Linked DNA regions of Homo sapiens. The protein of the gene in region 2 interacts with the protein of the main gene of each other region in a pairwise test. Each region holds a gene or a part of one and is shown on either strand. Other genes may lie near its edges. The genes, in order: ITSN2 and YTHDF1.

What was found.
Region 1: the proteins of YTHDF1 (region 2) and ITSN2 interact in a two-hybrid assay, tested with the Homo sapiens proteins (one study listed by BioGRID and IntAct).

Annotation. Positions count from the first base shown.
Region 1 is NC_000002.12:24,357,517-24,364,937, forward strand, and holds the start of ITSN2 (intersectin-2), read right to left. Parts: upstream 3,021-7,421; 5' UTR 2,788-3,020; exon of another isoform or gene 2,323-2,787; intron 1-2,322.
Region 2 is NC_000020.11:63,194,898-63,199,388, forward strand, and holds the end of YTHDF1 (YTH domain-containing family protein 1), read right to left. Parts: intron 1,838-4,491; coding exon 1,811-1,837; 3' UTR 532-1,810; downstream 1-531.

The DNA.
Region 1 (7,421 bases), on a different chromosome or scaffold from region 2:
GGTGCAGCAAACCACCACGGTGCACGTATACCTATGTAACAAACCTGTACGTTCTGCACATATATCCTGTTTTTTTTGTAAGAAATAAAAAAAAATCGGCACACAAGAAAGTCTGCCTTTCTTCAAAAACAGTTTTTTCACAAATTTTTTCCATAAATAAAAAAGGTACTAAAAAAACTTGAATCCAAAAAAAGAAAAAGAAAATGCACCGTTAGATGGTAATAAATATATCACATTTTTGGTAATGTAACTCGTTTATTCTGAATCATTTCTGGAACTTGTTAATATAAATGTTTTACAAGTAAATACAATATGTAAAAATGCTACTTAATGGACTAATATGTACTTTCACTCATTCACTAAACACATATTTTTTACTGAATGCCCATATAACTTTTTTTTTCTTTTTTTTGTTTGAGACGGAGTCTCACTCTGTCGCCTAGGCTGGAGTGCAGTGGTGCGATCTCGGTTCACTGCAACCTCCGCCTCCCGGGTTCAACGATTCTCCTGCCTCAGCCTCCTGAGTACCTGGGACTACAGGCGCACGCCACCATGCCAGGCTAATTTTTTGTATTTTTTAGTAGAGACAGGATTTCACCTTATTGGTCAGTCTCAAACTCCTGACCTGGTGATCCGCCCTCCTCGGCCTCCCAAAGTGCTGGGATTACAGGCATGAGCCAGGGCACCCGGCACATAGATAACTCTTTTTTAAATGTATGAACCAAGATGACTCTACCAGATAAGGCACAGGTGCTGCAGTTAAAAGGATCTTGGTTTGAAACCTGGCTATTGTACTTACTAGCTCAGAGACCTAAAGTAGTCAAACTTCAGGTTAACATTTCACTTACCTTTTTGATGGGAAGATAATAATTACTCCTAGGGCCTTAGTGAGCTTTAAATGATTATGTAAAACACTTAGCATAGAGTCTAACATGCAGTTACGTGCTCGATAAATGACAACCATGGTAAACATATTTTATACTGAAGAAAGTATAGTTGAAGGAGACAGCCAATATGTGACCCTTTTGTCTTACTAAAGATGGAAATTTGTGAAACTCTACATTAAAACTAAAAATCCTAAGGTTACATGATTTTCTACTTTTTAAAAAAGATATACTAACTACATAAGGTTAAAGGATTTTTTAAAATAAGAAAGAAAAAAAGAAAAGCTTCTTGAAAGCTGCTGAGTTTGGGTGATGGGTACATGCTATTTTTGTGAAAATACAAATTTTTTAACACTATTAATCCAATCCCCAAAACATGCCTAACACACCTCCTCATATTCAGGAGAGATCAAGATTTTAGCCTTGAGATGTACCGAACAATGGTAACTCCCTGCTTAGTAATTCTGTACAGGTCAAGTTTTCTTGGACGAGTTTACCTTTCATTACAAAGGTGGGCACAGGGAATAGTTATCAATGCATGGAAGGGTGAAAAAATGCAAGCTTTTCAACTGCTTATTAATATTACATCAAAATAGCAGCAATGCACATTTTTTCCACGTTTTCAAAAACATAAAATACATCCACTTTATTTACTTTTGAAATTACAAGAGAGTCACAGGCACAGCCAAAAAAAGCTAAAGGAAAACACATCAGAGTTGTCAGTATCTTTAAATTTGGAAGGACGTCATTATTAATTCGCGTAAATGTTTTATGCGATGTTTCTAGGTAGCTTTTAGGTTTTATCACTGATTAACAATATAGCAAACCAGCACAGGGAGAGAGGCAATTTTTCGAAACGCTTAAGAAGCTTTAAACTACAAGAGCTATGCTACCTAAACTGAGCTCACTAACAACGTAAAATTTCAAGTCACACCTTGCCTATTTCTGAGTAAGCAAGCAAACACTAGTGAGACAAACTAGAAGCATGGAGCAAAGCAAGTCATTTCTATGCTAACCTTAATTCCTATCGTAAAGGGGTTGGCTCCATCAAAAAATATTCCTATTTCAGTATTAACACAAGTTTCAAATAAAGCACACTTGCCATTGGTAATTCTAGAGCGACAAGGCGCATAATTAATAAATCCAAACGGAGCATCTTTCTATAGAATACAAAGCCATCTGCAGTTTCAGCCTCGGTTTACCCACTCACTATGCATATGCAGACGTCTTTAAAAATAAATAAATAAATACACAAATAAACTTTATCTGGCCTGAGAGATTACATCTCTCGGTGCTTCCTGTATATTCTGGAAGTCAATAACGCTGAAGGTAAATTTAACATTTCCAACTCCGGAGGAACGCGAGCGGTAGACGCCAAGCATCCGCCCACTGTCCTCTCGTGACTCGGGCTACTTTGACGCACCGGGATGCGGCTCACCTGACATTCGGCACCAACCCTTGCCAGGAAGGAAAACCAACTCCGCGAAAATAAAATGGGTCCCCGAGGAGGCGTGCGGGTGCCCCCAGAGCTCTCTTCTGCTCACACCCCGAAAGCGAGGGGGCCACGCCACCCCCGACCCTCGCCGGCGTCCGCCACCTGCCAGACGAGGCCGCGGCCAGGGACCCGGGCTCGGCCGCAAGGAAGGGGCAGCCCAGCCCAGGCCCCCTCGGCGTCTGTCCCGGCCCGGCAGCAGAGGAAGGAACCCGGGGCCGGAGGTTTCCGCCCCGCACGGCCGAGCCCGCCAGGGGCCTAGCTCGGGGGCCGCCCGTACTCCCGAGGACCCGTCCCCATCGTGCGGAGCGCACAGCCGCCTCAGCCCGACCCGCAGAGCCTCCGGGCAGCGGGCGCGGCGCCCGCACCTGCCCCGCGCCTTGCTGCAGCCCCGCTAGCGGCTTCACCCACCTGGCGCCCTCGCCGCGCCTCCCGCTCGTCACAGCGCGACTCCGCGTCCCTCAGCACCGGCAGCCTGGGCGCGGGCAGGCGCGGGGAGACCCTGCTCTGCCGCCGTCGCCGCCACTGCAGCTGGCTTGGTCGTCAGGCCGCCGCCCGCGAACCTGTTGCGTAGCCTGTCACAGCCGCTCAGGGCTCCGCCGGCGCCGCCTCAGCCCCACAACAACATGGCGGCCGCGGCCTCCGCAGGAAGCCGGGGGGCGGGGAGGTAGGCGCCGGGCCGGGCAGCTGACGGCCCGCCCGCTGCCGGGCACCGACTCCCCACCCTCCGGAGCCCGAAACTGCCCGGGCGTGGCTCCTCGCCCCAGGAGTTCCGGGGCATTGAACCCTGAAGGTCTGCTCCGAGTCGGTCGGGTCCGAAGCGCTCCTCTCTGCCCTCGGGGAGGCCCCGAAGCCCCAGACCTGGCAGCCCTTCCTGGAGTTGCACAGACCCACCTGGCTCCTCCTCCCCGAGGTAACATGCTGAGCTTGGGTGGTGCTTTTCCTGCCACGGCAGACGCCGGGGTTTTGGAAAGTCCCAAGCAGTGCCTGCCACATCCCTGTTGCACCCACCACGGGGTTCTCCCTGGAACCTTCTCACTCGCCGAAGTTTTCTCCACTGATCTGGGGGAACGAATTCTCTGGGAATTGGGGGGTGGAAGGTGGGAAGGAGGTTGATCCCACCCTTGCCCATGGGTCTGTTACAGGCCTCTTGAACCCTTCTCAGGGACCTGGAGGACTTAACCATACCCTCGGTCATCCATTCACCATTCCTCGCCCTCCTCCATAACACACGCGGAGCGCCCACGAGGAGCACCCTCTACGCTAGTCACACTCCGCCGAGCAGTAGGAAGACTCTGTCCCCATAGAGCATAGCACGACGAAGCTAAACTTTCCTCCCCACCCCTCGCCAAGGGACAGGCGAAGCTCCTACTCAGAATTTGTCTCTTTTCTCCCCTCCCGGTTCCTGGTCTCCTCACAAAAGACCAGACTTCAACTCAAGCCGCCACCGTATCCCAAAACCCCAAAGGTTTGCCCTTGACAAGAAGCTTCTTCAAGGGGAAAGGCTTTCTTTTGATTGGGGTGAGGGAGGAGTTAGTGTTTCCTAATGAACGTAACCAAATGTCGGCCTGGCACAGTGGCTCACGCTTGTAACCCCGGCACTTTGGGAGGCCGAGGCAGGTGGATCATCTGAGGTCAGGAGTTGGAGACCAGCCTGGCCAACATGGTGAAACCCCGCCTCTTCTAACAATACAAAAATTAGCTGGGCGTGGTGGCGGGCGCCTGTAGTCCCAGCTACTCGGAAGGCTGAGGCAGGAGAATCGCTTGAACCTGGGAGGCGGAGGTTGCAGTGAGCAGAGATTGCACCACTGTACTCCAGCCTGGGCGACAAGAGCGAAACTCTGTCTCAAAAAAAAAAAAGTAACCAAATGTAAGACTCAAGATTTTTGGATATAAGACCCAAGATTTCTTTTTTTTTTTTTTTTTTTTTTTTTTTTTTTCCTGAGACAGACTCTCACTCCGTTGCCCAGGCTGGAGTGCAGTGGCGCAACTGTGAGATCTGTGCTCACTGCAACCTCCGCCTCCCAGGTTCAAGCAATTCTCCTGCCTCAGCCTTCCAAGTACCTGGGATTACAGGCACTTGCCACCACGCCCGGCTAATTTTTGTATTTTTAGTAGACACTGGTTTCACCATGTTGGCCAGGCTGGTCTCAAACTCCTGACCTCAGGTGATCCACCCGCCTCATCCTCCCAAAGTGCTGGGATTGGCGTGAGCCACCACGCCCGGCCAAGACCCAAGATTTATTTTGGCTTTTAGAAGCAGGGTGAGGGCTGGTCTGGGGTCCAAAACTCATATCCCTTGATTTGATCTGTGTAGATCAAATAACCCCTGGCATCCTTTCATTCCTTACCTGTTGAGGCAGGTGAAGGTGAGATGGCTCCAAACCCAGGCCTATCTGAACTGGCCAGCCAGCTTAGGAGGAATTTACCAAACATCGATGATGATAAACAGGCTTTTCCCGCTCTCACACTCAGTGTTTTTCCTAACTCTTCGATTAGAACCTGACCAAGACCTGACAGACAGGTCCTGAGCTTCAGTGACACAGAGAAGCCTGACTCTTTTATCAGTCTAGGAGGCCCCTCACTTGCTGGGGACCAGCCAATCTGTCCTTATCTGCAAACAAACCACCCAGGCCAAGGATAGCAATCTTGAGCACGTGGCCTCATTCCCATTGCACCCTTCACCAGTTAACTGATATGCTCTTTTGGAGCCCATATTTGAGAGTCAAAGCCCCAGAATCCTTCACAACATAGTGCTCCAGAGAGTTGGTCTGAGAGGTAAAACCTATTTTTTATTCCTGTTAGGCACATAGCTAGTCTTCATTTTTCTCCCATCCTTTGACCAATGTCATTTGTGTTTTCGGGTTCTAGACCTGGTGCAATTTACCCTGAGTCTCCTTTCCTTCTAAAGGAGGTGCCAAATCCTTGGCAGGACAAAAATGGAATTTGTAGAAAGAGATGCTTATAAAGGAATAAAAAAAAATTTAAAGCCCCCCTAAAATAAACCAAAAAACTAACAACCTCTGCTGGAAATCAGGGTCCTGAATGCATGCCTACAGTATCCCAAGTACTAAAACAACTGTATCCCAGAGTTCCCTTCAGAACTTTGAGGCCAGTTTGTCCATCCTGTCCTACTCTATCACAGCCCAAAATGCAAGCACCTCCAGTTATCTATCTTCTCTCTCACACATACCTCCCACCCTGTGTGATTCAGGGATAAATTTGGGCAATATTAAGCATTTGGTGGTTGGATATAAGGAATGAGAAGGAGTAAAGGGTTCTTGGGTTTTTGGGTAATGGTAGTTCTATTCAACAAGATAAAGAATGGAATACAGGAGGGAAGCACAGACCTTGGAAGTGGCTGAAGAAACATTTTCCTTGCTCCTCGACTGCATCCAGATCCTAGTTTTCCACTCACATGCAAAAGCCCCTTCTCCTATGAGGCTTATAACACTAGCTACACCCATCCTCTATCCTCATCCTTATCATTTACCATCTTCCAGGGCACTCAATATATTCCTCAAGAATTTCTGCACATGGAGCAGCCAGTACTCTCCGCCCAGGACCTTCATCATCCTTAGTGTCTTTCAGTGTTCATGATTCATTTAGATGATGCAGCCGCCATCCCAGTTCCTTGACTTCCTCTTCTCATAGGGCAGCCTTGGAAGTGTGTCTATACATTTCCTCCTTAGTATTCTCCAAATCCCAGCATCTTTTCTTTACTTCTGGCACCAGCTGGAAATCAAATACCTGGAGGAGCTAAGTCCTACCATGTTACATTTCTCTTCCTCTAGTTCTGCCACAGTCTAGGCAAGATTCTTAGACTTGTTCCTGGTGACCTAGCTTTTACCCTGGGAGCGTTTAGTCTCTATCTGTTTTCTTTTCCATGTATTATTGATCCTTCTCCTCAACCATATGTATCTTATGTTCTATCAATCTCCCCTTAAGTTAGTTTTCAAAGATTCCATCCTGTACCCCATTTCTACCATGTTTACCCCCAAAACAAACCTGCAGTGTAAGAAGAGTATAGAATAGGTAGAAGCAACAGTTCTAGAGTCCAGGCATCCCATAAGATAAATACCATTATCATATAGAGTAGAAAGACTGAGAACCTGGAGCTCATATTTCATGTTATAGTTTTACCTTCAAAACAATGCTGTAACTTTGGGGGTTTTTTATTTGTTTTTGTTTTGTTTTTTTTAGGATGGAGTTTCACTCTTGTTGCCTAGGCTGGAGTGCAATGGCGCGATCTCAGCTCTCTGCAACCTCCGCCTCCCAGGTTCAAGCGATTCTCCTGCCTCATCCTCCTGAGTAGCTGGGATTACAGGCTCCCACCACCAAGCCCAGCTAATTTTTTGTATTTTTAGTAGAGACAAGGTCTCACTATATTGGCCAGGCTGGTCTTGAACTCCTGACCTCAGGTGATCCACCCACCTCAGCCTCCCAAAGTGCTAGGATTACAGGCATGAGCCAAGTTTTAAATAAATAATTTATAAAGAAATTAATAGGTTACAGGCAACAAAAATAGTCTTGATTTATCCAGATATTTATTATTTTGGGCACTCTTCATTCTTTCCTGAGGATCCGAGTTTCCTATGATAATATTTCCCACCTGCCAAACAAACTAACCCTGAAAATGGATGGCACTGGAGGAGCAGAGGAAGGGAGAGGAAAGGGATTGAGCAGATGGCATCATTTCCCATTTTTCAACCCCCAACCCCAAGTTCCCATCCCTGCAGATGCTCTGCCCTGAGACTTGAAGCCTGGGGCACAGGCCTGGGTGGAGCCAATGCAGGCACAGATCTTGACATTCGTAGCAAATATTCAGATGGGAATTTTGAAGGCAGAAGTGGAGAAGAGTTCCACGTGAACAGCAGTAGGTATGAGTTATATATTTTTTAAATTAATAATTTTTAAAAGACCCTACCATGTTCTGGCCACTAGAAACAAGGACTTCGCAAGGAATGAGCACTGGTGAGGAGCAGTGGAGACTCAATTCACAAGAATGGTCAATGGGACAAATTTGGTCCTTGGATCTTTTCTTA
Region 2 (4,491 bases):
CAGACTGGGTGTGGTGGCTCGTGCCTGTAATCCTAGTACTTTGGGAGGCCAAGGCGGGCGGATTGCCTGAGCTCAGGATTTTCTGGGCTGAGGCTAATATTGCATAACTTTATCACATACTTGTCAACTTCTGCAGATGTACACAATGTGCATTTCACTGCTTATAAATTTTACCTCAAAAGGAAAACAAACTAAACAGGTATTAAACTCTTATTGCATAAATAATAAGAGGCATTGGAGGATGAATGGAGAGAGACGGTGAGGAGCCAAGTCCAGAAAGGGGGTAGCGGTGCCCAGGTGCTGCACGCACCGCTGCGTCTGCACATTCATGTGATGAGGGGTGGGTGACGGTGCCATGTAGTTTATAGTCTTAAGGAAATTAACAGCTCCCTCTTCCAAAGCGAGGGAACGAGAATCCCACACCTTGAGAAACACAGGGCTTTCTACGGTGACTCCCCGAATGGCTCTGCAGCTTAAAAAGCTCCAACACATAAACTCATCAAGTAGGGTGAAGAATGAGGTGACACCAAGTTTGCTAAATAGTATTGTTTATTAAGGCTTGTATTCTCCTAGAGGAAAAACCCAATGTCGTCCAGGACTCCATTCAGGCAGTAACAGTTCAGAGGAAGTGACACGCTCTAAATACAAGTCTAATGATACAGCTGAAACGTTAACTCAGAGGGTCTTTTGGAGCAAGTAGTTTTCAGAAAGCGTCTGCTCTCTAGGACGGTAAGGATCCTCTACAAGGGCACGTGCAGATCCAGGCGCTGGAGCGTCAGGCATGGGCACCATTTTCATGCTTCAACTCAAACTCCAGGTGGTAGTGAGCTCAACGGTCCCTCATTCCACAAAACATGACAGCAAATTCATCTTCTAAAAAAAGTTTTGTTTTGTTTTTACCCATTCAACAGGAAAAAAAATTAGACACACACGATGAAATTTACAACCAGCAGCATCATCCATCACACTGTCTGTACTACCAGATCCTACACTTAAAGCTCAGCATTATTGGTATAAAAACTTAAGACGGCATTAGAATTCTTAAGAAAAGGTGTAAAATTTAAAAAGATGTGCAAACAACAAAGAATGCCCGACCCTGAACCAGACCTAAAGCACCTTCCAGTTCCTCCACACATCATGCCCCAACACCATCCAGCCCAATCGGACACCAGGACAGTGAGGGACGGGTGGCTGTTCAGTGGGCAACAGATCTGGAAGGAAAGATTTTCAAAAAAAAAAAAAAAGTGTCTGCCAAATTTGAAAAATTAAAAGTTATCTGTCTAGCAGAAAAATCAAATGGGTAAATTAGCACTTTAGACCGATAACAGATAATAAAATGACAAATCAGAATGAACAAAAAATCATTAACCTTTTGATTTCAGTATTTTCAAGAGATTTTATCAGAATACTCTAAATGACAAAATGACTCATGGTTTCTTATGTTTGCTAAAAAGCAATAAAGGGATGAGAAATATGAAGTCTCACAGAATATCAAATGACTGAATTTAAGAACACAATTTCTGCCAAAATAGATGCTTTGTTTTTAAGGATACTTACATTTCACATTAGATCAGTCTGATTGATAAGCTGACAAAAAAAATACTCCTTTATTAGTGACTTCTACAGGATTATAATACATAGAAAAAGTACAAATAAATGCAGATCCATCTGGGCAAAAATCAACGACAAGAAAGGCAAAGATGCAACACTCAACCCCCGCACGGGACGACACACTGGAGCTGACCAAGCACACGTGTTTTAAACTGTTTTCAAAGTCAAACGTTAGAACATGTAAGAAACTGGTTCGCCCTCATTGTTTGTTTCGACTCTGCCGTTCCTGTAAAAAGAAAAAACAAAAGTTGAACGCAGAGTAACCACACCAATGAATCCCTCCCAAAAGTGAGATCCGAGGCTGCCCCTTAGCAGCACCTGCAAATCTGGAGGCGGGACCCTGAATGGTACCCAAGCCACACCAGCACACAACTCTGAGCTGCACTGGGGCCTGCTCTGTGGGGGACTGGCCACACTGGGCATGGCATTCTCCCCACCCCCTCTACCAGGAGAAAAGCATCAACCACAACGGTCACATGGGCCACCTGTCTGCTGGGAAGCCTCACTTCCCACAGCTGTCTTTCCCTCATGTGCCACTATCATTCCACATGGAAAGACACTTAGCAATGTGAAATTCTCTGCACTCAGAGGGAGGAGCTGGCACGCACCAGGCTCTCAAGGAGGCCAGGGAGACAGAAGCTGTTCTTCTGTATTTTATCTCATTTAAACTTCTCAGTGGCACAAAGGACACCAAAATCCTTCCAACTGGCTAACAAGGTGCTGTGTCATGTGGCTAATGAAGGGCAGGAGGACCGGTGTGGGCCTGTCCAGTTCAGGCCCTTCCCACTCCCCAGCTCACTCCCACGCCAAGGGGAAGAGCATGCCCCTCCCCACTCCCCCACGGCTAGACTGGCTCAAGGCAAAGCTCCTCTGACCAGGTTTGCTGCCCACTCCCGTAAGAGAATCATCTTTTCCAGAGTGTATGTGACACACAAGCTTGAGACTTACACCCGAATCTTTTCCCACACTGGCCTCCCTGAGTAGCAGGGTCTAGAAGCCCCTTCAGTCTCCTTACAAGGCAGCATACAAAGATGAAAATGTGCGATCTAAGGAGCACACGCTGCACCACTCTGCTAGAGAGGTGTCCCAGGCCGAGTGTGGTGGCGCACCCTGTAATCCCAGCTATTCGGGAGGCTGAGGCGAGAGGATCGCTTGAGCCCATGAGTTTTCGGCTGCAGTGAGCTATTATCTGCCCTGCACTCCAGCCTGGGCAACAGAGAGAGACCCTATCTCGAAATAAAAACAAAACAAAAAGATGCATCCCAGGCACATCCACCCTCATCTGGCCATCTATCAAGATGCAAACTAATAAAGAAAACCAGCGGGCAGGACACCCAAACATTTAACCTGAAACCTCCTCTTTTGCTAAAAATGGACTGAATGTGTCTTCCGGTTAATAATAAACTTTGCTGGGCACTGGAATAAACACCAGCCTCCTCAACTGTGGCTGCTCTCAGAAGCAGATGTGGTGTTCCCTGTCCCGAGAAGGCTCCAGAGTATTTGGATTAAGGACCTGGATAGGCAGGTCCTACTCTTAAGAATTAACATTTCCTCCCTACCCTCAAATGTAAAACTGGAAAAATTAAGAACTCTGTATTTTACATTCTCTTAAACATTCTCCGTTAAAAAAAATCTCTTCCCAGGCTGGGTGTGGTGGCTCATGCCTGTAATCCTAGCACTTTGGGAGGCCAAGGTGGGTGGATTGCCTGAGCTCAGGAATTTGAGACCAGCTTGGTCAACATGGTAAAACCCCACCTCTACTAAAAATACAAAAAAAAAAAAAAAATTTGGCAGGGCATGGTGACCGGCGCCTGTAATCCCAGCCACTCTGAAGGCTGAGGCACAAGAATTACTTGAACCTAGGACGCAGAGGTTGCAGTGAGCTGAGATTGTGCCACTTCACTCCAGCCTGGGGGAGACAGCGAAACTCTCAATCAATCAATCTCTTAACAAAAGAGGTACTGCTGTTCCTAAAAAGCAAATACCAATCTCTTGAGTTCAAATAGCTGATGTTAAAGCCACTCACAGGTAAACTCCCCAGATCCCCATCTCCCTTCAGCCCTTATAAACAGCTACAAAGTTTACTATGTGCTCTTTAAAAAATACTATTCCTCATAAAATTTCTCAAAAAAAAAAAAAATGACGAAGCACAGCTCGTTCTTTTGAGGAATGCTCAACAAGCATCCAGGAAATGCTTATGGCCTAAGATTCTCTATGCTCTTTCTTAATTTCCAAAGTCAAAGAGCCACTCTGCTGAGCCGGCCTGGAGGTCGAAGTGGGGTCAGGTCAGGGGCACCTGCCGCCAGGGCAAGGACAGTCAGTCTGAGGAACTAAGCAATGCTCACAGTGTGGGACGCTCACCACTTTCACTGTTTTAAGCTAAGAAGTGGCCGTTTCTAGGTTTTTTTAAAACCAAAAAATGTATCAACCCAGGACTTGGTCTGACTCTGCTGCCATAAAAGCTACTGCCATCCTAAGAAATCAGTATGTTTCTAAATTTATAGCTGGACAGCAATCTTGCAAAATGCTAACTCTACTTCACTTTCTCAACACTCAACTTGTTTATGACCTTTACAGCAATGGGGCCAAACTCTAAATGATAAAGAAAAGGTGGGTCTGTTCTTCGAAGTCCTGAGAGAACCTTGAGAAAACCGCCCGGGGGCTCTACCAGCACAGGCGCACAACCCTCTCCTCGGCACACTACTTTGTTCTTAAAACTGCACTGACTCGGCCGGGCGCAGTGGCTCACGCCTGTAATCCCAGCACTTTGGGAGGCCAAAGCGGGCGGATCACGAGGTCAGGAGATCGAGACCATCCTGGCTAACACGGTGAAACCCCATCTCTACTAAAAGCACAAAAAATTCGCTGGGCGTGGTGGCA